Regions from separate parts of the Homo sapiens genome. Here region 1 is linked to region 2. The links come from fine-mapping of genetic effects on gene expression. A gene starts in region 2. The other region holds a variant in brackets. All regions are shown on one strand. Distances are between the middles of the regions. Region 1 holds the start of GSG1 (germ cell associated 1). Region 2 holds the start of FAM234B (family with sequence similarity 234 member B).

Evidence for each region. PIP is the estimated chance that this variant, and not a neighbour inherited with it, causes the effect.
Region 1: its variant is fine-mapped to the expression of FAM234B in monocytes after R848 (Quach 2016, PIP 0.95).

What each region holds. Positions count from the first base shown.
Region 1 is chr12:13,093,218-13,109,352 of GRCh38, forward strand. GSG1 (germ cell associated 1) reads right to left here and starts at 10,450. Exons shown (of 7, transcript NM_001080555.4): 1 at 10,248-10,450. The coding sequence starts at 10,295. LOC105369666 (a long non-coding RNA gene) reads left to right here and starts at 8,213. Exons shown (of 2, transcript XR_931369.3): 1 at 8,213-8,523; 2 at 8,770-9,229. RefSeq lists silencers at 7,829-8,058, 8,339-8,388. The variant C/T (reference allele first, on the strand shown) is at 8,154.
Region 2 is chr12:13,036,133-13,052,267 of GRCh38, forward strand. It overlaps FAM234B (family with sequence similarity 234 member B), which reads left to right and starts at 8,249. Exons shown (of 13, transcript NM_020853.2): 1 at 8,249-8,308. The coding sequence starts at 8,272.

The DNA of each region.
Region 1 (16,135 bases), 57 kb after region 2:
TTTATATAAAAGTTTAGAAAAAAGAATTGGGAGCATTCCAAATGCTCTTTGTGATAATCGTTTTTGGCTTTGTCTTCACTGACAGGTAGTAGCACTGACTTGCTGAAGCATTTGCTATTGTAACAAAGTGAGCTATTGGTGTCCTTTTCCCTGCATTACAGATTCCTCTGAAAGGAGTCATAGCAATGAATATTAAACTGGAAATCTCCGGGGGAAGCAGATGGATGCTTTGGGGCCTGGAGGATAAAAGAGGGCAGTGAACCTACTGGGATGTGGGGCTATTGAAACCTTTGGAAAGGAGATGGGGCTTATGGTTCTGGGAGAGGTAGCAGTCGGGCCCAGCTTCCATCCACTGCCACAGAGACAATAGAGTTTCAAATGCGAGGTGGCTGTGTGGTGCCTGTGTAGGCTGGACACCAGGTTTGGTGTCCACAGAGCCATGGGTAGGGTGTCGGCAGCCAAGCCCTTGGTCAGTGGAGAGGAACCTGGAGGGCCGTGTCTTCCAGCCTGGTGCAGAAGTGCCTGCCTCACAGTGGGGACATAGGGGAGGCTGCCGAAAGAACTGAGGCCCCAGATGGCTCTGGCAGGAGCCCCTACTCTCCATGTCATTTTCAGCCTAAGAGAAGAGGAGGCAAGCTAAAATATGACTGGTATTAGACGGCCAACTTTGCTGAGTGGTGGCTTGGAGCCAGATTTAATTGGACTTAGAGAAGTAATTTGGCAAGTCTCTCACTTTGTGTTAGAGCAGTTTATACAGTTATATTAATGCACATGGAACAGAAAAGAAGCCCATGGTTAGTTGCTGACAGACGCTTCTTAAAGTAAACCTTCTTGAGCTTTCCAGGGGATCCTTCATATCAGAATTAATCACACTTAAATCTGCTTATCTTAAGAGCCATAAATAAAACCATAGCTAAATGGACAGGTCCATAAATTTCCCTCCCTTATCACACCCAGCTTACTGTTTCTACATTTAAGAGAGAACTTTACCTGAGAAATGAAACAATTTGTTCTTCAGAATTTCCAGGGACTAAGACAGTGCATATCACAAAATGCTTATTATTTATGGCAATAAGAAATACACAAAGATCATATGTATGTAAAACCAATATGTAAAACATGATAAAGACAACTTCTGAAAAGCAATCTGCTAATATGATTTTACTTTTAAAGGCACTCAACAAATTAACTCTGCCAAGAATTGTCAGTTCTTGCAAGACTCTGGGTGACCTTGACTAAGGACAAAAAATCCGCAGCATCTGGGAGGAGGAAAGATTTTCTGTTGGTAGACACTGAAGTCGCGTGTTGCCCAGTTCCCCTTTCCTAAAATGTTTTCATCTTGGTTTTAGTTATGAAAATCCTATGGGTTTTAGTCATCATTCTCTTACTGTGAGTCATCCTTTCTAATAATTCTTACATTGCTTGAATAAGAAATGGACTTCCAGGTAAAACATCTTCACTAACTATTTGGTGTAAAGACTGACCTAAAGACTTAGGCAATTCTAACTTTTGTGACCTCAGCATTCATTTTTCAACAATCATTTTCATTCTGGTTTGGAAATTTGTCTATTATCACATCAGATTTTAACCCCACACTCAATCCATTTCAAGTTATACTTGCAAGATTTTTACTCCACATTCAATCCACTTCAAGTTATATATATTTGCAAGTTATTCTCGGGGTTATTCAGAAATAAGAAAGAATAACGAACCCCATACTAAGATACACCCACTTTGTGGCACCAAGGTGACAACCAATTTAAGGAAGAGGCAATTTGAGAAACAAAGAATAAAAAAGAGCTTGGACTGAAGCTCAAAGAGGTTCCTTCCAGAAGGAGTGTCCACCAGGGAGAGACACAAGGAACCTCATTCAAAAATCATCTTCTTGATATCGAATGATCATCTCATTCAAGAATTTTCAAGAATTATCTCCAACACCTATAGTACCATGCCCTTTGTCACATACTTTACTCCTTTCCCCAAACATGCCTTTTCCTGCTAGGGTCGGGATACCTCTTGAATTGGAAGAACAAATCTAATTTTGCAATGGTTTCCATAAAGTGATCCTGAAGAAGTAATGGCCATAAGAACAACTCTATCTTTGTGTATGCAACAGATCCCATGCCAAGGTGACTCTTTACTCGCTAGAAAAGGGACAGAGTGGTTTCTCTAACACTTGGGCCCTTAGATCATTAGGAAGTGCGTAGGCGCCAATGTATAATCAGTAACCCTTACATCAGCATATATTAACAGAGTAACCCAGAATTAGCATAGGCTAGGAAGGACAACAGATCGATGAGGCAGGTGCACTTCTTAAAAGAGCCAGGTACAAAATAGCTGTAGACTGCATCCTTTGAGCAATAGGAGGGGAAGCCGGTTACCTTGGCCATGGTCAGCGTCTTGCAGCTTGTCTGGAAGAACCGAAGGATGCCATCTGCACTCCAAGTCCCTTTGGTTTAATGTTGCAAGAATGCAAACTGTCTTCCTACCCTCCTCCCTCTCCTCCTACCCCTCCCCTTCTATCTCATATTCTTTGGAGTGCCTCATGATTAAATGCTGCCTTACAGGGAACACGGGCATTTAATAATTGACAAGGCAATCAGGGCCCAGCTGTTCTGGGAGATTACACCAGAGAGCTTGCCAATGGGGATCTGGGATTAAGCACAAAGAAGCAAGGACCTGCAATTTGCAGAGGAAATTTTCTTTAAAAAGTAAATGATGGTTTAGTTTCCACTGCCTGCCATTCCCTAGGTAACTGGTGTGAATGGATTGGGCTTGGATTTATGACAGACGAAGATATGGCAGGTCACCATCACTGCAGAAGTTTACCTTCCCTCGAGTAGGGTTTCCTATCCCTTTGAAGAAACTCTATTCTCTGCAATGTCGGGGCCTCATGGAGCCATGAACAGGAAATAGCTTCCTTGTTCCATGGGTGGTCTCCACCTTCCAGTTAGAACATTAGAATAAGTACTATTGCCGGGCGTGGTGGATCACGCCTGTAATCCCAGCACTTTGGGAGGCCTAGGTGGGCGGATCACAAGGTCAGGAGATTGAGACCATCCTGGCTAACATGCTGAAATCCCGTCTCTACTAAAAACACAAAAAAATTAGCCGGGCCTGGTGGCGGGTGCCTGTAGTCCCAGCTACTCGGGAGGCTGAGGCAGGAGAATGGTGTGAACCTGGAAGGCAGAGCTTGCAGTGAGCCGAGACTGCGCCACTGCACTCCAGCCTGGGTGACAGAGTGAGACTCTGTCTCAAAAAAAAAAAAAAAAAAAAGAATAAGTACTATTAAGTATCTCCCTCTACACATGGAATGCTGAGTGAGAATGTTGGCTGGGGATGTGGCAAAGATGCAGATAGAATAGGATTGGAGATAAATGAATTCCAGGATCTGGAATGCCATGGCTATTTACCATTCCTCTCCCAACCTTCAGGCAAAGGAATGACAATATTTTATATTTCAAAAAAGAGTTTCTAAAATGCTGAAAAAGTAATCTAAGAAACCAGTAAGGGGTCGTTTGCATATGTTCTTGCCACCAGTCAGCCAGAAGTACAAGTTGTTCTTTCTCTCCTCAAAATTGTACAAATAGCTGGGCGCGATGGTTCATGCCTGCAATCCCAGCACTTTGGGAGGCTGAGGCAGGTGGATCACTTGAGGTCAGGAGTTCGAGACCAGCTTGGTCAACATAGTGACACCCTGTCTCTACTTAAAAATACAAAAAAATTAGCCAGGCATTGTGGCAGGCACCTGTAATCCCAACTACTTGGGAGGCTGAGCAGGAGAATCTCTTGAACCTGGGAGATGGAGGTTGCAGTGAGCCGAGATTGTGCCACTGCACTCCAACCTGGGCCACAGAACGAGACTCCATCTTTAAAAAAAAAAAGTGCAAATTAATTGGGACACCAATGTTGAAAGAGATTCTGCCGCTGTTTGTGAGTCCCTAAACCCTGCATGGACTTTCATCCTCCAAGCCTTTGCTGATGCTCTTCCTTCTGCCTGGACTGCCTTCAATCTCTTTTTACCTGGTGAATTGCCTGCCTTTCAACGAAATTAGTCTAAAAAGTCATCCACTCTTTGAAAATGTTTCTTTTCTCCCTAGGACAGACAGCTCCCTCCTCATGATCCTTGTCACACTATATCTTGCAACACTTATTTTTTTTTTTTAATTTTAATAGAGACAGGGTCTCACTATGTTGTCCAGGCTGGTCTCGAACTCCTGGGCTCAAGCAATCCTCCCACCTTGGCCTCCCAAAGTGCTGGGATTACAGGCGTGAGCCACTGCACCCGGCCTTCTCACAACACTTTCTGTATTCCATTATAACTACTGCATTTGTCTGAAATGTAACTTCCTCAAAGGTCTCACTTTCATTTTAGAGCAGTCGTTCTCAGTTCTGATGAACTGAGTTCAGAACAATCTTTGGAAGTTTGGAAAATATGCCGATTCCTGGACCCACCCTGAGATTTCATAGTAGTTCTGGGTGAGGCCCAGGAATTGGTAATTTTAGAAAGTTCTTAATATATACCCAGGGAATTCATGTAAAATGGCACCTGTTCAACTCATTTTGGGCTTACATTTAATAAAACCCTCTGTATCCGCCCCCGGCCGTTCCTCCCCCTCTTCCAGACTAGCCATGAGGTCATGTTTTTCCCATTCTATATTTGTGCAGTTCGTTTAGGGAATCAAAGGCAGGTTCTTCTGAACTTAATTGTTTGAATTAGTCCACGTTCTAGCCAAATGAGTTGCTTCGGATCCTGCTTTTGTCACCTGTAATGTCTGCTCTCCTCAGACTGATGTTAACAAGCAAATTTGATAAACATGTGCCATGTGCAGGTACATTTTCTGCATCGCCCAAACAACCCTTTATTTGTTGTGACAGAACTCACTCTCCTTTGGAAGGAGAAGCAGGAATTTTGTGTTCTTTGTTTTTTTTTTTTTTACGGTTGCATTGGCGGTTGGTTTCCTGGCTAGTAGTTTCATCACAACGCTGGGTGGCGCTATCTCCTCGTCGTTTCCGCTTCCGTCACGTGCTTCCCCCACCAGTCGGCAAAATGTGGGTGGAAGTGGCTGCTCCTCCCCATAGGATCCTTTTATTTATTTATTTTTAATTTGGCATCCTCCCTGCCTGCTAATCTACAGAATGCCGTGTGTCAGCTCTATGGAATTCAGGGCTCAGGCTGAACTTTGGGGCATCCAGCCACTCCCTATAGGAGTCTTGTAGGATTGTTTCATGTAGCCCATTTTTTTTTTTTTTTTTTTTTTTTTTTTTTTTTTTTGGGCGGCCAGTTCCAGCTTCAGTGACTCAGTAGATCCTCAAATACTTCCCATGGGAAATACAACTCCACGGTATCAGAAAATACAGTTAGCCAATGTTTCCTGATGAGTTTTGTGCACATTTTTCTTGATTGTATCTTCAGTCCCTTTCCACCCCAGAACAGTGAACAATTATTTTCCCCTCTCTGTGCTTACACCCTTCAAATACTTGCAGACACTTCTCATAGCCCGCTTGAGTCACTGTTTGGCATGGCCTGATGTCTTTGGTTTTTATTGCCTCTGCTCATAAACTGCACCCCCTGTGCCTTAATAGCCTGAAGTTCGCCTTCTCCAGGGAAATGGGGATGGGAGTGGCAGACTCTTAAGTGTGTTATATGAGGAGGCTCAGGGGTGGATTTAGAGTGAAGCTAATGAAACTTCAGCTTCCATGTCCCCTACTCACTCCACCTCTTCTAAAACCTTGTTACCTAATTTACACTTGTAATTGTGTACTCTTTTTCTTAAAGAGGGCCTCCGAAATTATATTATTTTAGGCCTCCACAAAGCCTGGGTCCACCCCTTAGGAGGCTGTGCATTTTGTGTGTGTACTTGGCTGCCTGGCTGCTGAATGTGACCAGTCTTGATTCCCCCTCCCCAAGGACCCTGGGCCACAACGTCTAATTTCCTCTTTTTGACAAAACATGAGTTTCTCTGCCTGGCCACAAACATCAGAGCCCAGCATCCCACTCACTTCCTTTCATTGTAATTTGGGCATGTTAATATTTTTTTCTTCCTTTTCCTCTCTTAGAACAGAAGAAGTAATTGCTAGTCAATGTGACATAAATATAATTAGGTTCGGCTCAGAAGCTCATGACTCAGCACAGACACGAAGATTCCACACCTAAAAACAGTATTTAGCTCTGGCATGTTGGACTGTGACTATTCCAAGATGACCTCCGCAGGAATATATATGCACTTCACCATTTATGACACCACAAGGCCAACAGTGGGGACTAACCCATATTTGCTGAGGTCCTCAGTCACTGTTTCCTGTACTGGACAGAACCACATTTACTAGGCTGTGCATCAAGAGAAAACAGTGGTGTTGGGGCACCTACACATACTTCGTAAATGGGAATGCAATTTATTGTTTTGTGAGTTCACTGCAGGTTAGAAGTGATTAAATGACAAGCGTGAATGCTGAGCCGGAGAGCAGGTTATATACCACACCACTTCTCTAATGCCAAGGCCTGGGGCTAAGGGATCCGGTGTTTTTTTTTGTTTTTTTTTTTTTTTTTTGTTTTTTCTTCATGTCATCCATACTGGCATCTTCCTGGAAAGGTTTGTTTGCCCTCCCTGGCAGGAGTATCTCTGTCCTCCCAGGAGCTAGATTTCTGACCCACGCGCCATTAGCTCCTTTCTGTTACTCAGTAGACAAAGGCTGGAGTGGGTTGTAAATGTTTCGGCTATCGCCGGTCTGATGACCATGCATGCCCCTGGCCCTGTTCTTTGCTTCTGCATGTCCTAGCATGTGCCTCTCTCGTGTAACTCATCACATGGCTTACTTGTCTGTCATGCTCATTTGACTTTAAGTTGCTTGATATAGTAGCAGCTATGTTTTATTCATTGTTGATCCTCAGAGCCTAGCAGTGTTTTAACATCTATGAATGAATGAATGAATGAATGAATGAATGAATGAGATTTGTAATGCAAAAAGGTTTATGGATACAATTAGAAATCCTGAATGAAGATGTGAATAAAGAAGTGTGTCCAAACAGCCTTCTGTTGCTAAAGGAAACAGGACGCTTCTGGATTCACGTATGTAAGAGCAGCGAGAAGCTACAAAGGAAGCCCTGGGTCCACAGGCACACCCTAAGCCTTTCCAGGCAGATGCACCCAGAGTTTCATCAAACAGATTCTCTGCCAATCCATTTCCTCTCACCTGTGGAAACATTCCTGCTTTTAAATGAGCAAAGCGCAGAAAACAGTGATGATCTCATGAAATAGTATATTATCTTTAGTGCACAGAGATCAGGAGACAGATTGCTCAAAAACCAGTGACAGATTGGAAATGTTATGTCCTTTTCCAAGCTGGGTGGACCCCTACTGATTAGAGCCATTTTGGATAATGTATCTCCAAACTTCTGAGCTTTTGCTGCTCTAACTGCAATGTTTACATCAGTGCCTGACCTTATACTCTTTCACTGATGAGGACAAAGATGGTCTTCACACGGGACATTTTCACATTTGTTTCCCAGCCCGGAAGGGAAGAGTAATGCCACCAAAATGCCCGTGCTTAGTGTTCAAAATGACTACATCACTGTAGGGCACTTAGCTCCGGGATTTATTCTCAGCTGTAACCACGTTTAAGGGGCCACATCACCTCAAATGGTCGCACAATCAAATGACTCTAGTCTTCCTAACGTAGGTCCCGAGTTTTGGGAACACTTCAATTCAGTGGGAAGGACCCTGGAAAAGCGTATCGGGGCCTCGTTCTCGTCTTTCCCTTTCCGCCTTTTAATGGAATTGTTTGAGGACTTTTGCTAATGCAGTCATTTCCAGGAGAGGAAGCCGCCTTTCTTCCAGGCCCCAAGCAGCTGGAGTGAATCAGAGGGGCAGCCACATCTGCACATCCTGTGGGGCAATCGCTCACGCGCGGGTGACGGCGCCAGCAGGCCGGCTGGGGCCGGGGGCGCTTGGGGACCGCGGGGCGGGGCGGGGGCGTAACGGGTGGGGCCTCTCGGGGGTGCCTGGGCCGCGCCATCTCCACTTCCGAGCGCGCCCTCCCACCCTGATGAGTAACGCGCCGTCTCTCCCGTTTACTACGGCGCCCGGTCGCCTAGCAGCGGGGCGCGTTGCCGCGGCGACAGGCCGGCCGTGTTTGGCATTGTTTGCGAGGCC[C/T]CGCCCCGCGGCCGCCAACCACCCATGGCTTCCTGACCGGGTCGGGCGGGGGTACCCGGGCTGTTTCTTCCTCTGGGTCTTCCTCCGTCGGTTGAGAACGGTGTCCCGGGGGCCCTCCCAGAGAGCAGGGACTGCCAGGGCAGGCCAGGGACCCGGCGAGCCGCGGAGGGCGGGGCCACATGTGTCCCGGAGCTGGGCCGGGGCGCTAGGCCACCTGAGGCGCGTCCCCTCTGCCGCCTGGCGAGGCTGCGCGGGAGGGCGGAGAGACTGGGTAGTCGGAGGGATTCCTTACACCCAGGCCGGTGGGCCAGGGCTCGGGATGTGTCGAGCTGCTGGAGTCCAAAGTCAGGCATTTCCCTGCCTCTGCCCGGTAAAGCTATGGGTCCCAGGCTCCCGTTCTAAGGGAAGGGGATGTCTGCGTCTCATTGGGAAGACCCCAGGGCGGGACTTCACCACCCAGACCCCTCAGCAGATCCGAGTTCTATTTACGACCCAATGCACGACTGCACTGAGGATTTTGGCCAAGTTACTTAACCTCCCAGAGGGTTAAATTTACCCTCAGGGGTAAATGAGGGCAAAGAGTTGTCCTTCTTAGTTCTGTGAAAATCGAAAACAGGTAGAAGAAGAGTGCCTCTAAGCAGAAACGAAGGGGAAGTGCACCTGTGCTACCAGCAGACACCTTGCTAGACCCTTCAGACATCTTCCTTAATCCTCACAACCAGCCTGAAAGGGACGTGGCATCCCCATTCTACAAGTGAGGGTTCCGATTCGGAGGGTTTGACTTGCTCAAGGCCACAAAGCTAGTAAATGGTAAAGTCAACACTGGCAATCTTTGAGGACTGTTCGCCTGACTCATCACCAGGCTGCCACTCAGTAAAAGCCAAGGCACAGTCACCTTTAACAAAATGTACAGATTGCAGGCCAGATTTATGGGACCTCCTGCAGATTGAGGCAATGGATTAAGTGTACTTTATACTTCTCAGGTACATATTAGCAACCAGACGCTCCCATATTCCCTCTGTGTCTCTCCTGGAAAACCACTGATAAAGAACAATAATAAAATTTATTCTAAGCCATGACTGGCTTTTTCTGTCATGTTCACATCCACTTCTTTGTCATCTATTCACTTGGGGCTGCTTCTGAATTAGGGAAGCTGCCTGAACCCACACTCCGATGGCTCTTCAGAACCACCAGCTCAGCTCTGCAGTCCCAGAAGTGCCTCTTAAGTTATCCTGTTCTTTCCTTTGAGATCCTAACTTCCAGCTGGTCAACAACATACCACATTGCTCCCTGTGTTGGAGTGTATGTACGTGTGTGTGTGTTTGTGTATGTGCTAGTTTGCTGGCTAATTGCAAGCTTCATTTTTCTCTCCTGAGAAAGGCAAGATATCTGAGAATGAACACCATTTGTTTTTTTAAGTAATCCTTAGAGCTGAAAGTTGGGAGGCTGGTCGTTTCTGAATGTAGGTCAAATGCTAAACAAGCCGCAACTTCTCTGCAGAGTGTGAGAGTCTTCCTGGTCTGGAAGGATCCCTGAAGATTCTGCTGGATTCTCTGAGACGAGAAAGAGCTTGACTGTGTGTTGTCCTTCCCAGTTCCAGATCAGAGCTGCCTTCCAGCAGGACCTTGGGGATGCCCCACTGTTCTCTGGCATAGAGCTTGATGTCTGCTCTTTCAGCTCACTGGGGTGACACACAGCTCTATTGTTGCCACCGCTACTGGGCCTTTACCAGGCTCCAGATTTTGGCAACGGGAATAATGCAGATGAAAGGAAAAAAGGAGAGGCATAGGGAGCCCTGGGAACAGAAAGGAGAAGGAAGATGATGAGACAAGGGAAGAAGAAATGGAAGTTTTAATGAAGGAAGATGAAAAGGTAATAGGCCAAGGTATGGACATACCAGTTTTATCTATGAAAACTGGGCTGAGTGACACATTTTCATTCCATTTTGTAGAACCCTATAGTGCATTTCCAAGCTCTTTACTGTGACCATGTGAAATACATGAAATTGATGAGTTAGTGTAACCTGTGTTACAAATCCAGCAGTAAAGATATGTGTATGAGATGTTCATGAGATTTCAAAATCACTGTACCTACCTCCTGGGTGAGGCAAACATTTTGAGTCAGTTGAGAGGGATCGCTCATTCACTCTTGCAGCGGGAAGGCAGAGAAGTTTCAGTTTATCTTCTGTTCTGTCTCAATCAGTTGGGTAGAATGAGTGTTTAGCGTGAGGATGAATCAGGTCCCCTCTTGCCAGCAGAGGGGTAAGGTGGTGTGTGGTGGATTGGAGAGGATGTCCTGAGGGCCAGACACCAGCCAGGGCGGGGTTGGGTGACCCGTGGGGTTTATTCTGTGATGTCACAACGGCAGTCAGGGGTCTCCCTGTTGCTCCCTCAGCCTCCTCCCATAAGGATTGGGGGGGGTCATGCTGGGTACCTACCAGTGGCTGGATGTCTTCTGAGGTCGTCCAGATCAGTGCTTATCTTATTGTGCATAAGATTCACCTGGGGAACTTAGTCAAGTGCAGATCCTGACTTAGTCAAGTGCAGAGTCTGGGATGGCTCTCACGTGAGTCCAGCCAGACCACACTGAGTTGTGAGACTCTAGACCAGTGCTGTCAAAGCAAAATGCAATGTGGGCAGCATATGTCATTTAAAATTTTCTGGTAGCCACATTAAAAAAAGTAAATTGGACACACATACTGTGATACAGCAATCATATGTTATACAATACTATGTTTAAAATGTAGCCCTCCCCACACAATAAAGTTGGGTTTAATGAAAAATATTTTATACTACTTTCATTTTAAAATTAAAATTTAGTGAATTCAAATTACATAAAATTAGAAATTCAGTTGCTCAGTTGCACTATCCATATCATAAGGGCTCCACAGCCACACATGGCAAGTAGCTACTGTATTGGATGGCACAACTCAAGGCCATTCCCTGAAAAGGTAACAATGTACAGAAATTACCATTCTAAAGGGCTAGTATCTGGAAACCCAGCAAACATTCACTAACATCATTTTAATGAATACATAATTAGTGTTTGGGGACTGTTAATATGGAGGCATAACTCTCGGAGACTGGAAGAGGGCCTCATCCAGGATTCCAGCTAACAGTCTGGATGGGGCCCTCTGCCCTGTGAAACCTGTCACACTCAGTCCTCCTCTGAGCTTTTGCCAGGGTTCCCCTCACTGGGATCCCTTCCTTCTCCTTGCTGCCCTGCCTAAATCTTACACAACCTCAGGGCACATGATTCCAGTCTCACTACCTTGTGGCTCTAGCCCTCCTTACTCCCCATTTCCTCTTTGCTCATACAGCATGCCTGCTTTGCTTTTGGTGTGTTAGTCTGTTTCTCTCGTGAAATTCTAAGCTGCTTGAGGACAGAATCTGGTTTTTTACTTCTATCGTGCTTAATATAGTGCCAAGGGCATAGTAGCTGCTCAAGAAATATTTATTATTTTATTTAATGACCTAAACTACCTAAGGAAGTATCTAAGAGAGAACATCGGATCTCGAAGTGCCAATAACTTCCCCAATGGAACAACATGCCTTATTTTTGGCACATCTTAAATTGATCAAGATGTCCGTTATAAGTTAATTTATAAATTTAATACAAATAACCATGAGTATTTTAAAAGACCAACACAAGTTGATATTAAAGTTTATATGGGAAAAAAATACACAAGACTAGCTAGGAAAACCCTGAAAAGGAAGAGCTCTGAGGTGGTGCTAGCCCTAATTGATATAAAGCATACTACAAAGCCTCTATGATTAAAACAACATGGCACATGTATACATATGTAACAAACCCGCACGTTGTGCACATGTACGCTAGAACTTAAAGTATATTAAAAAAAACAAAAAAACCAAAAAAAAACAATGTGGTACTGGTGCATGACTAGACAAACAGGCCAATGGAAGAGAACAGAAAGTCTAGAGATAAACACAGCTATGTATAGACTTCCAGTATAGGACAAAGGTGATATCTGTAATCACTGGGGCACAGATGATTTTTTTAAGAAATGTTGTTGGGATAAACTAGATAGCCATTTAGAAAAATATAAATTATATTTATTTAAAAATCATATACAAGAATAAACTCTAGATGGACTAGAGATCTGAATTTTAAAAATGAGATTATGGCCGGATGCTTAATCCCAGCACGTCAGGAGGCCGAGGCAGGAGGATAACTTGAGCCCAGGAGTTCAAGACCAGCCTGGGCAACACAGTGAAACCTTATTGCTACGAAAAGTACAAAAATTAGCTGGGCGAGGTTGTGAGCGCTTGTAGTCCCAGCTACTTGGGAGACCGAGGTGGGAGGATTGCTTGAGCCCGGGAAGTTGAGGCTGCAGTGAGCCATGATCCTGCCACTGAACTCCAGCCTGGGCGATGCTGGGTGACAGCGCAAGACTGCCTCAAAAAAAGAAAAAAAAAAAAAAAAGAGAGAGAGAGAGAGAGAGACATATGAATGACCCTAAATATATGAAAAAATGTTCAACTTCACATATAGTAAACATAATGCAATTTAAAACTAGAATGAAATATCACTTCTCATCCACCAGACTGACAAAATTATAAAGTTTGACAGTGCAATCTGTTGATGATGCTGTGGGGAACAGACGCTCTCACTCATTGCTAGTGGGAATCCCAAATGGTGTACCCCTTTGGTGAATTTGGCAATATCTAACACAACTGCATGTGCATCCCATCACCCAGAAATCCTACTTCTAGAAATTTACCCTGAAGATACACCTCCAACAATAGGCATGAAGCTATTCATTACAACATATTTGTAATTGTAAAATATGGAAACTACCTAAATAAGAATTGGTGGAATTAATTATGGTTCATACACACAATGAGGTACTATGCAGCTATAAAAAACAAAGCAAACAAGGGAGATTTCTATGAACTGATATGGAATGCTAAGTACATAAGAGGATATATAGTATACTATCTTTTGTGTAAAAAAGAAAAGAGGGGAAACAAAATGTACATCTATCTGCTTATTGTTACCAAACGAAGTTCAGGAAGGATAAACCAGAAAACAATAAAGTTGGTTGTTTACTGGGGGTGGGGAATGGAAATGATTCTGGAAGGAGTGACACTTCTCTGAGAAGTTTTTATGATATAGTTTTGACTTTTGGGAGCATGCTAATGTTCCACATGTTTGAAAATAAAATTATAACAAGTTGAGAAGGAAAAGAAAAGCCTGAAACCAAAAGCAAATGGAAACAAGTGACCTCAGTGGTATTTCAGATAAATACTATAACCACGCAGAAAGGGAAAAAACAAAAGAAAGAACAAATCCAAGGAACTCTTGAATACAGTGCTTGACTATCTACTGGTCAGTCTTGGGTAAAGTTGAGTGGGGGAGAATTGCAAACAACTCCTGAACTCTTTTTATTTATTTATAACTGTAAAAAATTTATTTTATTTTAGATTCAGTGGGTACATGTGCAGGCTTGTTACATGAGTATACTGTGTGATGCTGAGGTTTGGGCTGCTAATGATTTCATCACTCAAGTAGTGAACATAAGTGAACATGGCATCCGATAGATAGTTTTTCAATACCTGCTGCCCTCTCTCCCTAACCCCCTTTAGAATTCCCAGTGTTTATTGTTCCCATTTTTGTGTCCATGTGTACCCAATGTTTAGCTCCCACTTATAAATATGCTGTATTTGGTTTTCTGTTTCTGCATTAACTTGCTTAGAATAATGGCCTCCACCTGCATCCATGTTGCTGCAAAGGACATGATTTCCTTCTTGTTTATGGCTGTGTATTAATAGTATTCCAGGGTGTATATGTACCACATTTTAGGAATCTAACCCACCATTGATGGGCAGCTGGGTTGATTCTGTATGTTTGCTATTGTGAATAGTGCTGTGATAAACACACAAGTACAGGCTGAGTGAGATGGCTCACACCTGTAATCCTAGCACTTTGGGAGGCTGAGGCAGGAGGATTGCTTGAAGCCAAGAGTTCAAAACCAGCCTGGGCAGAAAAGTGAGACCCTCTCTCTGAAAAAAATAAACAAACCCCTCAAGTCAGCTGGGCGTGGTGGCCCGTGCCTGTAATCCCAGCTATATGAGAAGCTGAGGGAGGATGGCTTGAGCCCAAGAGTTTGAGGCTGCAGTGAGCTATGATCATGCCACTACATTCCAGCCTGTGTATCAGAGCAAGACTCTCTTAAAAAAAACAAAATAATACAAAACCCCAAAAAACATACAAGTGCAGGTGTCTTTTTGATAGAATGATTTATTTTCCTTTGAGTGTGTACCCAGTAATGAGATTGCTGGGTTGAATAGTATTTCTAATTTTAGTTCTTTGAGAAATTTCCAAACTGCCTTCCACAGGGGCTGAACTAATTTGCATTCCCAGCAACAGTGTATAGGCGTTCTCTTTTCTCTACAACCTTGCTAACATCTGTTATTGTTTGATTTTTTGGTAATAGCCATTCTGATTGGTGTGAGATGGTATCTCATTGTGATTTTGATTTGCATCTCTCTGATAATTAGTGATTTTGATAATTTTTTCATATGTTGGTTGGTGGCTTGTATGTTTTCTTTTAGAAGTGTCTGTTCATGCTTTTGCCCACTTTTTAATGGAATTATTTGTTTTTTTTTCTTGTTGATTTGTTTCAGTTCCTTATAGATTCTGGATATTAGGTGTTTGTCAGATGCATAGTTTGCAAATATTTTCTCCCCTTAAGTAGGTTGTCTGTTTACTCTGTTGATAGTTGCTTTTGCTGTGCAGAAGCTTTTTAGTTTAGTTAGGTCCCAACTGTCAATTTTTGTTTCTGTGGCGTTTGATTTTGAGGACTTAGCCATGAATTCTTTGCCTAGACCAATGTCTAGAAGAGTACTTCCTAGGTTTTCTAGGATTTTTATAGCTCGAGGTCTTACATTTAAGTCTTTAATCCATCTTGAGTTAATTTTTGTATATGGTGAGAAATAGGGTCTGGTTTCGTTCTTCCGCATATGGCTAGCCAGTTTCCCAGCACCACTTACTGAATAGGTTATTCTTTCCCCATTGTTTAATTTTGTTGACTTTGTTGAAGATCAGTTGGTCGTAGGTATGTACCTTGGTTTCAGGGGTCTCTATTCTGTTCCATTGCTATGTGTTCATGTTTTGTACCAGGTACCATGCTGTTTTGGTTACTGTAGCCTTGCAGTATAGTTTGAAGTTGGGAAGTATGATGTCTCTGGCTTTATTCTTTTTGCTTAGGATTGCCTTGGCTATTTGGGCCCTTTTTAATTCCATGTGAAGTTTGAAACAGTTTTTTTCTAATTCCGAAAAAATTAATGTTGTAGTTTGATAGGGAATTGAATCTGTAGTCTGCTTTAGGCAGTATGGTGATTTTAATGATATTGATTATTCCAATCCATGAGCACTGCATGCTTTCCCATTTGTTTATGTTGTCTATAATTTATTTTAGCAGTGTTCTATAATTCTCTTTGTAGAGATCTTTCACCTCCTTGGTTGGATGTATTCCTAGGTTTGTGTGTGTGTGTGTGTGTGTGTGTGTGTGTGCATGGCTATTGTAAATGGGATTGTGTTTTTGATTTCTTGATTTGGTTCTCAACTTGAATGTTATCAGTGTATAGAAATGTTACTGATTTTTGTGCGTTGATTTTTTTTTTTTTTTTTGAGACGGAGTCTCGCTCTGTCACCCAGGCTGGAGTGCAGTGGCATGATCTCAGCTCACTGCAGCCTCTGCCTCCTGGGTTCAAGCTATTCTCCTGCCTTAGCCTCCTGCAGGTAGCTGGGATTACAAGCATGCACCACCATGCCCGGCTCATTTTTGTATTTTTAGTAGATACGGGGTTTCACCATGTTGGCGAGGCTGGTCTTGAACTCCTGACCTCAAGTGATCTGCCCACCTGAGCCTCCCAAAGTGTTGGGATTACAGGCATGAGTCACCACGCCCAGCCTGTGCATTGATTTTATATCCTAAGGCTTTGCAGAAGTTTACCAAG
Region 2 (16,135 bases):
ACAGTACCCATATTTTCTTTCTTGCCAGAACAGGAAAGCAGGTGAAAAGTGAGAATTTGTGCACACGTTGTGTCTGGGAGACAAAGCATGAGTAACTGAATCCACCACCAGGACCTTTTGCTTGTAACTATCTGGTCTTCCTCTCTCCATTCTTGTTCTCCTCCAGTTTATTCCCTGCATAGCAGCCAGTTGGATCACATCAACTTTGCTAATTAAAGTCCTTCAGTGTCAAGGCACCTGCATGATCAGGTTCCTGTCTGCCTCTTGCTTCTCACATTGAAACTATTCTCAGGCACACTGGTTTCCTCCATAGGACGAAGCTTTTGTCTTTCTTTCTTTTTTTTTTTTGAGATGGAGTCTCTGTCACCCAGGCTGGAGTGCAGTGGTGGAGTCTTGGCTCACTGCAACCTCCGCCTCCCAGGTTCAAGCAATTCTTGCGCCTTAGCCTCCCGAGTAGCTGGGATTACAGGCATGTGCCACCACGCCTGGCTAATTTTTTGTATTTTTAGTAGGCACAGGGTTTCACTATGTTGGCCAGGCTGGTCTCGAACTCCTGATCTCAAGTGATCCACCCGCTTCGGCCTTCCAAAGTGCTGGGATTACAGGCGTGAGCCACCGTGCCCGGCTGAATCAAGCTTTTTTCTGACTCGACCTTTACACGTCCTGTTCTTCAGCCTTTACGTGAACAACTTCTACCCATTCTTCAGGTGTCAGCTTAAGTATCAGTTTCTCAGTGAGTTATTCATTTCCTCACTCCCCAAACTAATCTATGATGTCTCCGTGATTCTTTCTCACAGTACTAGGTTCTTTTCCTTCATTGTGCTTGCCACACTTTGTAATGATATATTTATTTATTGCTTGCTTAATGTCTGTCTCTCCTCTAGATTGCAAGGCCTTTGAAGGAGCTTACAGGATTTGTTTACTCTTTTATATCCAGCTGCTTGAAAGCATTGGCTAGGAATGGCCTCATGAGAAGGCTGTAGTCAGTGGACTCCAGGAGCAGTAACTTGATACTAAGTGTCAACTTTTCCTATTTTGTGTTACCATTCCTTTTTTTGTTTTGTTTTGTTTTGAGATGGAGTTTCACTCTTTTTGCCCAGGATGGAGTGCAATGGGGCGATCTGGGCTCACGGCAACTTCTTCTTCTTGGGTTCAAGTGATGCTCCTGCTTCAGCCTCCCGAGTATCTGGGATTACAGGTGTGTGCCACCATGCCTGGCTAATTTTGTATTTTTAGTAGAGACGGGGTTTCACCATGTTGGCCAGGCTGGTCTTGAACTCCTGACCTCAGGTAATCTGCCCGCCTCAGCCTCCCAAAGTGCTGGGATTACAGGCGTGAGCCACCGCACCCGGCCTTATAATTCTTTACAGATGTGCAGAGATGAAATGGGCAGAGGTAATTACCAGAAATGCTGAGTCCACCTAACAGGAGGGATGGGGAGAAGTGACAGCCATGAGGCATATGTGGAGCATGTGCACACTGCTGAGATTCACATGCAGAGGGACGGCGTTTCCCCAAGTCATGCAGCCTGGGTGCTTGGACTATGACATTGGTATGGAGAAGAGTGGTGAAAGAACATGAGAATATTTGCATTATCCAAAGCAGGGAATATGAGCGTAGGAAAAAAGTTTTATTAATTATAAAGTCCAGCTGGGCAAGGTGGCTAACACTTGTAATCCTAGCACTTTGGGAGGCCAAGGCGGGCAGATCACTTGAGCTCACAAGTTCAAGACCACCATGGGCAACATGGCAAAACCCCCATCTCTACAAAAAACACAAAAATTAGCCGGGTGTGGTGGTGCATACCTATAGTCCCAGCACTCAGGAGGCTGAAGTGGGAAGGATTGCTAGAGCCTGGGAAGCAGAGGTTGCAGTGAGCTGAGATTGTGCCACCACACTCCAGCCTGGGCAATAGAGCCAGACCTTGTCTCAAAATAAATAAATAAATAAAATAAATAAGGTCCTCCCCCTTTTTTTTTTCTAAATTGATTTTATTCTTTTCTCATAATGTGATGGCTATTTATTCTTACATTCACATTTATCCAATACATATCTGGGGCCATATGCTATGCATTATGTAGGGCTAAAAAGATACAAAATTTCACTTCCATTCTTTAAGAACTCAATATTTAGTATGGGAGTTTTAATATAATACACATATTCAAATTTAATATTAGACAGATATTCAAATTTAATATGGTATATCTATTCATATTACAACACACAGCTGCCTATAATACATACTTTAAGATGTGCAGAAAAATGAAGTATTCTAGAACTTCAGTCACGTAGCCAGTGGTAACCTGATTTACTGACTTTTAGAGGATTACTTAGGACTTAACCAGTGAGCTAGACATGCAGAACTGAGAAGTCTCAACAGGGATGTAATCTAAATATGAAAAACACTACAGAACAAGACCTTGTCTCAAAAAAAAAAAAATCTTGGTTATATAAAAAAAAAAAAAAGGAAAGAAAAACACAGTACTGCATAGGTCCTGACTAACCAGAACATGTCTGACTAATCAGCTAGCACTCCCAACAAATGAGAACAAATGTTGGCCAAATATCAGCTACATTCAGCACTAAAATCTGTCATGAATCAAGTACTTTTATAAAAGAGTTTATAGTTTGGTTACAATGCCATAAGTGAGGCAGGGATTACAAATAGTTTTCAATTTTTGAGCTGAATCCAATTGATAGGTAGTGGCTCCCTGGACAGCGGAGTGAGGGATTCTGAAGCTATGTCTGGGCCCACTGTCAGAGTGTGGTGAGTGACATGTGCCCTGGAAGAAGAAAAGACAAATTGGAGCACACATGCCATGTATCTGACGTCACTGCTTGTGATTAAAAGACAGAAAAACCTGCATTCAAATCCTTCTTCAAGTCCTTGGGAATTGTGTCACTTTGGGCAAATGGCTTTATCCATCTCAGTTTACCTTCCATGGAAAGGTTCTGCCCATAGGATGGAGGTGAGACTATAGCCTCCTGTTGAAGCTAACGGCCGCAGAAGGCAGGAAATAAGGGAGGAGGAGAAAGCCTGAGAGTGGAACTGACCCAAGAGGTCTTAGTGGTGGGGAAGATGAAGTGATGCGGCCAACAGCAGAGACCTGGGAGAAGAGATGCATCTAACAGAGCTTTTTGGGGGGGCGGCGGGGGGGGGGAAATGCTATGTGCCTTGACCCCTTTCCCTGGCCCCTTGAATCTTCAGGAAAACTCCCCAAGTCACAATATGCTTGGCCCATTGCATTTTCTTTTGGAAGGCAGTGAAGGGGCTGATCAAGACTGGCAAGACTCCAAAACACTGTCTTCTTTTATAGGTGATGAGTGCTCAGCGAATGGGGGCTGTTACCATCTACACTGCTACTACAGGTCCTTCGGTTGACATGAACATGCCAGAATGAGGGATGGGAGGACCAAGAGCTCATTTGGCCTGGGTGTGTCTGTCCTTAATTACACTGTTCTCAAACATATGTTCCAGCCAGAGGCTTGTTAAGAAGAAGCCTTTGTTTAAATTTCAGGGCCCACAGAGCATTTTATAGTCTAGACTCTAGAAAGTTTTATAGGCTAAAAGTCTGTATGATCTGAGTGAGATGAGCCCTTGTGTTTTATCAAAGGACATTCTGGGAACATAAACCTGTTTGTCTTCATGACAAGCCATGCAACTCCTGGGCAGAGTTCAGTTCTCTGTGAAGAGAAGTGAATATGCCACTGGTACACATGCGTTTCAAACTTCCTGATCCTCACGCAAGACTGATTTCACAGGCTCCTTGACATCTGCATTTAACTCCTAAATGTCCTCTGCTGTGCACCTCTTTCGCTTTTCTCAATCTCACTGCCCTCACTGCTATTTGCTATGACATTTTCTTTTTGCTTTTCGAATCTCATACTAATTACTGCTTCCTGACCCTTTTTGGCACCAGTGTAGCAGAGGGTACTACCCTCAGCTTCAGATAAGTCAGTGGAGTTCAGATTTGTCCATCCTCTGCTGATAGATGTAGGAATGGCTTCCAGAAATCTCTCTGCAGAGGGAGTGAGGGGAGCCTCCTGGGAGAGCTTCAGCTTAGACCCATAAGTCATTACAAGAAACTCAGCTCAGGAACAAAGCCTTAGTCCCTACAGGAGAAAGGCAATCCTAAGGAGAGCGGCGCCTGAACCCTTTCCTACCATCAAGAACTCAAGAACTCAGGTCTGTAATTTACAAAGGCATGGGGTGACCAGTGTCGCAGACACTGGCTAGATGCTCCCCAAACTTGTCTCCTTTTCTTCCTGGGCTCATACCTTCCTGGCACACATACTCTCTGTCTGAATTCTAGCCTAATAAATGTGGGCAGAATTCACATACACCAGCTCCAGGCCTGGCCCATAACACTTCCTGCATGATCTGGGATGCAAACGATCCAGTGGAGGCCTCCGAGGCCCTAAGGATGAAGCAGCTGGAGACAGAAGGGCCTGGGTCCCTGAATGGCTGGGAGGAATAGAGCCCCAGTGCAGTCTACTTGCACCCCCACCTTGACTCTGACATAGGCAGAAATAAATTTTTACACTCTAAAATCATTGGAATCTTGAGGTTGTTTGTTACAGCAATTATCTTGCTCTGGTTGACCTGCTAAGTAAAAATAGAAGCTCTGTCTAATGAAAATACTGCATTCAACCTGAAGGAGTAGCAGCATAGCATTGGCAATTTCCTAATAAAGTGTAATATGAAAAGGAGAGAAAGGCAGTCTTCCCTGGTTTCCTTTGCCCCTCACAGCTTTGACATTTTAGGAGCACTAAAATATGAGGTGGCATTTAGTGAGAGATACAGGAAGAGGCAGCAGTTTTTGAGAGGAGGCAGTTTTTGAGGGGCCTGGCAGCGCAGTGGAACCAAGGAGGAAGGGAGGCGGCCGCTGGTAGATACAGTGGCATTGGTTCCAAGAAGAGGTGGTGAAACCTAGTGGGGATAGTCAGGACCAGCAGAAGTGGCCACACTGTCCAGGGAAAGGCAAGCATTAGATGGTCAGATTTGATCATAAGCCCATGCAGGACACTTAGAGATTCTGAGCAGTACTTGGAGTATTACAAAGGTAATAACCAGCAATATGGGTTCCCTCTATGAGTTATGGGAACTTGAGAAGGTTGGGGAAGAACACTCTCACTGTAGATCAATGTAGGAAAAATAGAAGGTGATTTTCTGACTTCAGTTGTGATTTTTCAGAAAAGTAATTTCTTCAAGCAGGCACAGCCACCAGGCAGGTTAGGCTGTTCATAGGCATCCCGCCCCGGTCACTCTTGTACTTGTCAGGAAGGCAAGCCAAGTTCAGAAGTCAGAGAGGGCCTGGGTGTTTGCATTTTCCACAGTGACCTCAGTGGGTGTTTGGACAACAAAGGTATTCACATTCCACTAGGTAGCTAGAAAGGAACTCACAGGTATTCTCCATGTAAAAGGTAAGGATCCTGATTCATTTGGCAGCTGCTTTGAATTTTTTTCTTTAATTGAAAAGAAAGTACATTAAATTTGAGAAATACTATTCTAAGCTGCAGTTCCTATGTTAAAATGGAAAAAAGTTGTGGAGGGATGAAAGAGATTTCTAGAGGGACAAGGAAGACAAAGTGGAGGAAAGCTCAGGAAGCCAAGGAAGGAGGAATTCCTGGGCATCGGCCTCCCTGCAAAAATCATTCGGGCAAAGCTGGGGTGATTATGGGGAGTGTGCAGATGCCTTAAAGGTCAAGCATTGAAATCTGAGGAGCCGGAGATGCTGCATCTATTGGATGTATGTACACTGACACATGTTTATATGTACACATGTAAGTGTGTACATGCACATGGGCACTTTGGGTAACTACACAGTTTGAAGCAAAGTTTTTTTTTGTTTTGTTTTGTTTTTGAGACAGGGGTCTCATACTGTTGCCCAGGTTGGAGTACAGTGGTTCAATCACAGTTCACTGCAGCTTCCAACTCCTCAACTCCAGTAATCCTCCCACCTCAGCCTCTCAAAGTGCTGGGATTGCAGGCACAAGCCACTGTGCCTGGTTCTGAGACAAAGTTTTTAAATAAAACTTTATACATCTTTATTTTATTTATATCACAGAAGAAGGTACTCTCCCGGAATATACCTTTTCACTAAGAAAAGGAGACAGATTTTTCTTCTTTCTTCCTATCCTGTGTGACCTGGCTATTCCTTTCCACCCAAACTTTCTCCTAGAAACTCAAGTTCTTGTTCTGCAACTAAAATGAACATTTTTCTACATCCCTGTCACATTCACAGGTTATTTTTCTCAGTCTTCATATTTCAGGAATGCGTTCCATTTAGTTAAACTGATATCAGGCAAGCTACTACTGGCTCATTGTGACTTGTAGTGTTGCTCCTTTTAGATGACCTACATAGATGTAAAATATGTTTTTTAATCATGCCTCCAGAGAAGTGGCAAGCAGTAGAAATTTTGGGTATTGTAGAATGTTGAAAGAATTAATAAATAAATACATTACTAAACCATTAAATTACTATGAAATGTATTATTTGTTATTAAGTTACAAATTTTAAATTGTTAAAACATTAAGAAATTATCGATAAAAGAAGAGTGAATACTTAGAAAACACTAAGTGCCAGGCACTGTTGTAAGTGCTTTCTACATATATATTTAATTCTCAGGAGAACTCTATAAACTAGGAACTGTTTTGTCCCCATTTTGCAGATGAGAAAATTGAGGTGGGGAGAAATTAAGCAACTAACCCTCTGCCTGGCATCTAGGAAATGATAGAGTCAGGATTTGATCTCGGGAGGCCTGGCTCCTGGCTCCAGAGCCTGTGCTCTATCAGAGACAATGACATTTTTTTTTTCCAAGGGAAGAAAGGAGGTGAGACTGATTGCTGGAGACTCTCAGATTACTCCCACAGGATAGTCCTGTCTGCAGTTTCTCACGGGAATTAGGCAGCCTGCAAATGAGATGTATCTTGGAGCTTTTGTTGTGACACTCAGAAGTTACATTACCTTTCTATTTCTCAGCTTTCTCTTAAACAAAACAAGGAGAGTGGGACTAGATAGCCTCTAGGATCTGTTCCAGTTCTAAGATAACACAGTATTAGCATTCCTGCACTAAAATGCTGATCACTTGCGTGTGGGAAAGAAGCAAGTCAGTTCTTCCTTCTACACCACTGTGCCTGGTCCTGAGGCAAGCCAAGTTCAGAAGTCAGAGAGGGCCTGGGTGTTTGCATTTTCCACAGTGACCTCAGTGGGTGTTTGGGCAGCAAAAGTATTCACATTCCACTCAGTAGCTAGAGAGGAACACACAGGTATTCTCTATGTAAAAGGTAAGGATCCTGATTCATTTGGCAGCTGCTTTGAATTTTTTTCTTTAATTGAAAAGAAAGTACATTAAATTTGAGAAATACTATTCTAAGCTGCAGTTCCTATGTTAAAATGGAAAAAAGTTATGGAGGGATGAAGGAGATTTCCAGAGGGACAAGGAAGACAAAGTGGGGGAAAGCTCAGGGAGCCAAGGAAGGAGGAATTCCTGGGCATCGGGCTCTCCGCAAAAATCATTCAGGCAAAGCTGGGGTGATTACGGGGAGCGTGCAGATGCCTTAAAGGTCAAGCATTGAAATCTGAGGAGCTGGAGATGCTGCATCTATTGGATGTATGTACACAGTCGGATCCTCCTTCTACACCCTTCAACTAGAAGCTGCAGCGTAGGGTGCTGAGTAGACACCTGTAAAGAACTGGGAGCAATAAATGAGGGTTCGAGCTCCAGGAAACTTCAACTTCTACCTAAGAAGCGTAATAGAAACACTCTTACTAGGTGCCTACTGTGTGCTGTGTGTTTTAAACAGGTCGTATCATTTAATTCTCATTGCAAGCTTGTGAAGTAGGTAGTATGTCTTTAATTAAAAAAAAGCAGCGGCAGCTCAGTCGCCCCAAGGGACTTGCCCAAGATGGCCCAGCTAGTAAGTGATTCAGGCAGGATTCAAATCCAGTCTGCCTGATTTCAAAGCCCACGCACATTGCACAATCCACACCTCCTTAAATATCTCCTTCGAATCATTTTCACTGCAAGCTTACGGGGTATTTTCTCCCCATTTCACTGACGAGGCAAGTGAGACTCAGAGTGGTGAGGTGACCTGCATAGGTAGGGTGGGAGAAAAGCCTGCGGAGCGTGTACTCTGGCTTGGCCTCCCTCAGCTCTGTCCCCAGCAAGCGGGTCCCACCTTTCCCGGTCCCAGCCCCACGCACCGCCGCTCGGAACTACACTTCCCGGCAGAACGCGGGCGCGCGCACGCGCACCGGGGCCTCAGCCATGGCGACCGTGCTGTCCAGGGCGCTCAAGCTGCCGGGTAAGGAGTCGCATGCTTGCGACCACCCAGTCCCCGCCGGTGTTGGAATAAGGGGAGGCGAGGCTCTGGGGGCGAGGCCGGTCGGGCCCTGGCCTCAACCCAGACTCAGCTGCAGGCGCCCGGTGCCGAGGAGGGTGCAGTCCCTTGGGGCTGGGGTCTCTGTGCCACCAGAGGGCGAGAGGGGCGCCCAGCGGGGCAGGGGTCTCGGGCGCGGGGCGAACCCGGAGACGCGCGGGGAGAGGGCGCCGAGCAGGTGTTACGGCGGGGAATGTCAGAACGCCGGTCGCCGCTGTCCCGAGGGGAGGCTGGCGAGAGGAGCATCCTTCCCGAGCGCCGCGGACCCAGCACCGCAGGGACTCCGGCGCCTTCTGTCTTGGCTGGACCTGGGCGGGGGCGGCGGGACGGCGAGTGGCCCTCTGTGGATCATCCCCTCCACCTAACGGCAGCAACGACGCATCCATGAGGCAGGTGGGACAGGTATTTACGTCCCTTCCTAGTTTACAGAAGAGAAAATGAGAGTTATTTGGCTAAGTGAATTGTCCAAGGTCTCACAAGTATTGGGAAAGCTCGGCCTTGAACGTCAGGGGTCTTTTCACTCTAAATCCTGAGCTTTTGATTCCACTTGGTCAGTCTCCAGCTGCCGAGATTAAGCATGGGAAATGATTTGGCACCTATAAGTTGAAGATAATGTATGGAATCTTCTTTAAGGCAGCATTAGGGGTGATGACAACTTCCAGAGCTGATTCAGTACTTCGGGCAGCAGCTCCAAGTTTTTTTTCCTTTTTTTTTTTTTTTCCTCCTAAACCTCCAGAGTAGGATTGTACTGTTAGAAAGTTGATATTTAAATAAAAGTATATTTATTCCACCCAAGTAAATTTTAAACATTAGGCTTTAGAAAAATTGATGGCTCTACCTAGGTAAGTTTTAAGCATTAAGCTATAAACATTTATTTGCTGATAATTTGTATTAGAGGGAAAAGCAGTTGCTTTCATAGCTATCTCTAGAGAGGGCTATTTGGGTTTTGGTTGGATAGCTAGTTTGAGCTTGCAGGGGGATTACAGGGTCCTTGTTCTCAAGGAGCTTCCAGTATGCTACCCTGAAGCGAACCTTGCCATTTGGATGACGCTAGGTTGGATATTAATTTGCGTTTCTGTCCCCAGACTTCATGACCTCAGACAGATTATTATTTTTTTTAATATGGGCTCATTGGAACATTGGAAGGAACACTGATAGCATCTGCCTTGGAATGTGTGCATAACACTGGAATTAAAGGAGAGACGTGGCCCTTTACCTGCAGGATTAATTTTTTACTTTTTTACTTTGTATATCCTTAGTGTAGAATGATGTCCTCCCAGAGGGGTAATAAGATGTCAGACATTTAGCTTTATTTCTTTTTTTTTTTTCTTTTAGAGTCCTTTTTTAAAATTTCAGTGTAGGTCATTGTTATTCTCTAAGAATGAGAATGCATGAAAATCTTGCTTTAGCAACTCTTGAGGTCTTTTGTGTTCTTATGCCCCAAGGCTGTGGTGTTATTACTCCCTGGAGTATTAGTTGTAGGAACTGGTTGGGGTTCCCATAGTCCAGTCCATGGGCCTGTTTGGCAGGCAGCTTGGCCCTGAGCCCTGAGGTATGCTTGATGCTTTTTTAGGCCCAGATATAGTAGGCATGTGTTCTTTCATGTGATGTGGGTTTTAAGAAAATGTTCACTTGCGTCTACGGCCATACCACCCTGAACGCGCCCGATCTCGTCTGATCTCGGAAGCTAAGCAGGGTCGGGCCTGGTTAGTACTTGGATGGGAGAAAATGTTCACTTGCGTTTTTCCTTGTCTCCTTCTTGCCCTTTCTTCTTCCCTCCACCCAAAATACTATTTTTAGTTTTTGCATTAGGTACAAGTTGTTTTTATATAGCTCTTTTTGGCTCCCCTGTAATTGGGGTCCTGAGACTGCTGTCCTGTTTGGGCTACTGTGTTATGTTCCTGTAGTTAACATCCCCACTGTTTTCTTTGTTTGTTTTTTTGTTTGTTTGTTTGTTTTTTTGAGACGGAGTTTTGCTCTTCTTGCCCAGGCTGGAGTGCAATTGTGTGATCTCGGCTCACCGCAACCTCCGCCTCCTGGGTTCAAGCAATTCTCCTGCCTCAACCTCCCGAGTAGCTGGGATTACAGGCATGCACCACAATGCCCAGCTAATTTTGTATTTTTAGTAGAGACAGGGTTTCTCCATGTTGGTCAGGCTGGTCTGGAACTCCCGACCTCAGGTGATCGCCTGCCTTGGCCTCCCAAAGTGCTGGGATTACAGGCATGAGCCACTGCGTCTGGCCCCAACATCCCCACTGTTTTCATGTGTGAGGAAGTCAGGTTGGAGTGGTGGCTGAGAGCATGAGACAGGCTCGGGTTCAAATCCAGTCTTTACCTAATTAGTTACTTAATCTCTTTAAGCTTTAGTTTCCTCATCTGTAACAATAACATTATTATGGAACATTCACTCTATGCCACACATTCTACTACATATTTACCTCCTAGGGTTATCTGAAATAGTAAAGGAGATGGATGTACTTAGGAGGTCTAGTAACCTCTGACATATGTTAATTAGTCAGTAAGTGTTAGCTGTTGTCATCAGCAGTGTGCTCATTTATGAATGTGATACCTGAAGGAAGGCTTGATGTAATAGTGAGCTATTGACAGATCTCAGCAGTCTTGTTATGAAAGAGCAGTTTCGCTAAGCTCAAGAAGGAAAGATGTTTGGCTCACATGCATAAAATGAGGTTAATTAGTAGCAGAAGGCCAATATGACATTCATAAAGCCTGTAGGGCAGCTTATCTCCTAAGTATATATATATTTTTTTTCTTAGGCCATTTTAAAGTTTGAAGGTCAAACACTGGAGGGAATATCAGAGCAAAATGATTTTTTATGATTTATTTTGTTTGTGTAACTTAGTCTTTATATGCCCTTGGGTAAACTAACCCATGATATGAATTATTTACCTTTAGTTGCAGTAGAGTGTATTGTATAGTATATGCACAGTATAGTGTATACTATAGTATAGTATATGTTATAGAATAGTGTATGTTTTAGTATATTTCCTGAAAACGTTTGGGTATGGTATAGTTGCATCACTTTCCTATTTGTGTTTTCCTCTCTACCATTTTGGAAATCCTATTATATTTAAGCAGCATCTTCAGTCTTCCTAAGAGGAAAAGCAATAGCTGTGGAAAGCGCATTTATAATGATTTGTTATGAAATCAGTGCCCTCTCCCTTATTCTTTGAAAACCTTTCATTCATTAAAAATTTGGGTGGTGGCTGAAAGTAGCAAGGAAGCGAGTGAGTGCTAAGTGCCCTAAGCTTGGAAGCTGGATTTGACGCCTGGCTCCTCAGCCTGAGTAGGACTTAAGGCAAGTTGGTGGACTTCTTTTAAGGCAAGTTGGTGGACTTCTTTTAAGGCAAGTTGGTGGACGTCTTTTACTTCACGCTCTCTTATTGTCTTTCTGTAAATAGATAGAAAAAATATTATTAAAGACTTCTCTAATCAAAACTTGCAGTCTGTAATCCTTAAGCGGAGGTTTGTTTTTGCAGTATCTGAAAAAAAAATTAGTATAAAAGTATTTATTCCTCTCAAAAGGCTGGCCAAGAACTGGCCCCTAGTCTTCTGTGATGTAAAGAAAGCATAGGAATATGATAACTCAGAGCGCTTGTGTGCTTGTCTTTATATTTCGGTGATGTCATGGCTGGGTCAGAATGCTTGGACATCAAATTGCATGTTCTTTCTCTGAGGACTTTTTAGATATTGCTCCGCTATCTTTTAATAGTGTATGTTACTATGGAGAAATCTTTGCCTGATTTTTGTTCCTGTCATTAGTGACTTGATTCTTTTTCCTTTGGCCTGGCTGCTTATAGGATTCCTTCTTTGTCCTTGAAGTCCTGTGCCTTTACTAGGATATATTTCAGTATTGATTCTTCTGAATCAGTTTTTCTTGGGACTCTGTGTACTCATTATTCTGCAGTTTTAGGTCTTTATTGTAGGAAGTTTTTTTTGGCAACTCTTTAAAATACTGCTTTTGGTTCTTTTCTGTTTTCTGTTATCCTCTTTTCTGTTATCCTCTTTTCTGTTATCCTCTTCGGTCATGCATATATTGGCTCACCTTTGTTGTCAGTATCTATCACGTTGTTTCTAGTCTTTTTAAAGCCTTGATTTTTTTTCCACGGGATCATATGTAGCCCGTACAGACTTTGAAGCCAGACTGGTTTTGAATTGTTACCTATCACTTGCTGTTTATCTGTGGGCCAATGTATTAGTCTGTTTTCACACTGCTGATAAAGACATACTTGAGACGAGGCAATTTATAAAAGAAAGAGGTTTAATGGTCTTACAGTTCTGTGTGCCTAGGGAGGCCTCACAATCATGGTGGAAGGTAAAAGGCACATCTTACATGGTGGCGGCAAGAGAGAATGAGAACCAAGCGAAACAGGGTTCCCCTTGTAAAACCATCAGATCTCGTGAGACTTATTCACTACCATGAGAACAGTACGGAAGAAACTGCCCCCATGATTCAGTTATCTCCCACTGGGTCCCTCCCACAACACATGGGAATTATGGAAGTACAATTCAAGTTGAGATTTGGGTGGGGACACAGAGCCAAACCACATCCGCTAATTACTTAAACTTCCAAGCCTCAGCTTCCTCATCTTGAAAGTGAAGACAGTAATGTGTCTACCTCACATAGTTGTTATGAAGATTTACTGAGATAAGAATTTTTTTTTGAGACAAAGTCTTGTTCTGTCGCCCAGGCTGGAGTGCAGTGGCATGGTCTCGACTCACTCTAACCTCCGCCTCCCAGGTTCAAGCAATTTTAATGCCTCAGCCTCCTGAGTAGCTGGGGTTACAGGCGCCTGCCACCACACGTGGCAAATTTTTGTATTTTCAGTAGAGACGGGGTCTCGCCACGTTGGCCGGGCTGGTCTTGAAGTCCTGACCTCAAGTGATCTGCTCGCCTTGGCCTCCCAAAGTGCTGGGATTACAGGCGTGAGCCAGCACCCCTGGTCTGAGATAAGACATTAAAAGGGCTTGGAAGAGTGTAGGATAAGTGTTCAGAACTGCCAGCTGTAGTTATTTCCATTACATTTTGCTTGATTTTCACTAGTCTATTCTTTTTATGTCTCTGACTCTGTTTTCAGCAATATCTGTTCCTTTAGCTGATTCCAATAAGGATTTCTTTTCTAAAACTGGTTTGTTATTTTTTCCATTGTTTTCCTGAGTGCTTATTTCAGAGAAGACGATTTTCCTAAATTTCTCAGACTCCATGGGGAAGTATATGTTCATTATTTCTTCCATCTTGTGGTGTGATTTGTCCAGCATTTGTTTTTCAGCTAATTGTTTGTTATGTTTCGTTGTTACTTCTTTCTTGAATATTTGTAGAGCTTTGTGGTATCTTGTGGAATGAGTACTAAACATGGCTCCTTTCTGATTATTACTTATATTTAAATGGGGCGGTTGTTTGACAGCCTGGCTATTGCCAAAGGGGTGATCTAGGGCCGTTGGAAGCAAGAATGTAATCCAGGCCTGTTAAGTCAGCTGGCTCCCCACCAGCACTCTTCCTGTGTGGATGTCTCTATCCTGGCTAGGAGGAGGCTTTGCACAGGACTGTAGGCTGCTGGTTTGGCATTTCCTTCATTGACTTTGTTTTGCCAGTTATCAATTTATTGCATCTGAACTCCAAATTCACCTTTGTTGACTGATTTGTGAAAGTGGGTCTGAGCCCTTTTAAATATCAAGTTTGTCCTGCCTTGGATATTGTCTCTCAGTCCTAGGGGACCTTTTAGAGTTCTCTTCTCATCTTTATGTTTACTCTCCTGTCATTGCTTAGTAATTTTTTTTATGTTAAACTTGTCCTCTTTGAACTATTGTTTGGCTTCTGTATCCTGACTGGGCCCAGTCAGAGTGATTATGCCCAGTTACTTTTCTAACCTGCCGTCCTGACAGTGTGCTTTTTGTGAAGATGTCAGCTTGTACTTTTCCTCATTCGGTCCTACTTGGATTTGATTCTGTGGTGTTGAATGGGGCTCATTGGTGCTTCTGTGACCCCAGACTTTGTCTTTCCAAGCAAGCAATTACTGGTTTGGCTATATTTGTGGAACAAGGGAGGTAGTATAACTTGTTGGTTAGAACAACAAATGGACTCTGCAGTCAGATGCCTGGGTTTGAATCCTGGCTTTTCTTTTGGCTAGTTGTGTGATCTTAGTCATTTTACCTCTTTAATTTTATTTTTCTTGTTGATAAAATGGGGGATAATAATAATAATAATAATATCTACCATATAAGATTGATGTGAGGATTAAATGAATTAACACATGCAAAATGCTTGGATCAGTGCCTGGGACAGTAGGCACTCAATACACTTCCAGTTGTCATCATCGTCATCATCTTATTGTTGTCATGATTATTAATTCTGTGAACTCTGCTCATTGCTGAAGATCTGCAATATATGTGCAATATATATCTGCAAGATGTATTTGCCTACTCTTACTGAGCTTTCTCAATTGAGTACAAGTTTCAGTGCATTTAGTTCATAAATTGTGGTTTGGGAATGTGGCTGTTTCCTATTTTGTGTTCTATTTTTATTTTTCTGTATTTGTTTTCCTGGTTTTAGGGAAGACAGTGTGACAGAAATGCCCACTTTTGCCATCATTAACTAGAAGCATGTAATCTTGCTAAACAGACCAATCTGACAGCAGCTTTTTTCTCAAAGAATGCTTCAAATTGTTTTTATAAATTTCTTACAGATTTTATAAATTCCTGTAGCATATGCTTCTCTTCCTCCCTGCCTGTGATAGTACATAGCATGATAAAAATGAATTTCCTTTAAACTGTTTTGCTGGGAAGTGTTTTATTAATGATTTCACTTTGACAAAGGTGCTGTTTTTAGCCTGATATGTTTGTTGCAAGGTGGAGACTGACTAGCAAGATTGAATTTGATGTCGATGCTAAATTTTTCACTTGGTGCTAAAAATCCAATTGCACAATTATAGGGTGGCTTAAGCATGTGTTCAAAATGCTTGGAAGTTTTAATTGAATCAGTAGGTGATGTGAATGCCAAGAAAGCTCTCAAGATCTTACGTTATAGAAATTGAATTGTTGTTTGCTATCTGGAGTAGGTAGGAAATAGCTCTGCCCTCCCTTTCTCTGGTCAGACTGTACCTGGGATTGTATCTAGTTCCAAGAACCATATTTTAAAAAGCACAGACATATCACATTGTGTCCAGAGGAGAATGACCAGGATGTTGAGGACACCTGAAACAATGCTTCTTTAAGTAATGGGTTGAAAGAGGTGGAGGTGTTTAAGTTGGAGCTGAGAAGAGTGGGGGAGGGCACTGGGAGATACAATACTAGCACCAGTGATGGTAATGATAATAATAGAAGCTAAAATTTATTGTGTGGCTATAAGCCAGGCACTAAGAAGCAGACATATATTATCTTATTTGATTCTCATCACAATCATATGAGCTAAAAAGAATAATTATTCCATTTCATAAATAGGGAAATTGATGCTCAATAAAGTTAAGAAATTTGAGATTACATAGTTCATAAGAGATATAGCCAGGATTTGGCTTGATGTTTGATTGTGAAGACTTGAGCTCTTAAATACCATATCATATGTCTCTTATGATTGATACCTTTGAGTGTTTGAAGGACTTACATGTGAGAGAGGGATCCCAGAAATTAAAACTAGGACAGATAATTGGCAACTTCCCAGAAAAAAATTCTTGAATCAGTGTAAAGAATTGGTTTCTAGATTGGAGGCCAGTGGATTCCCTAATACAGGTTACATTCAGG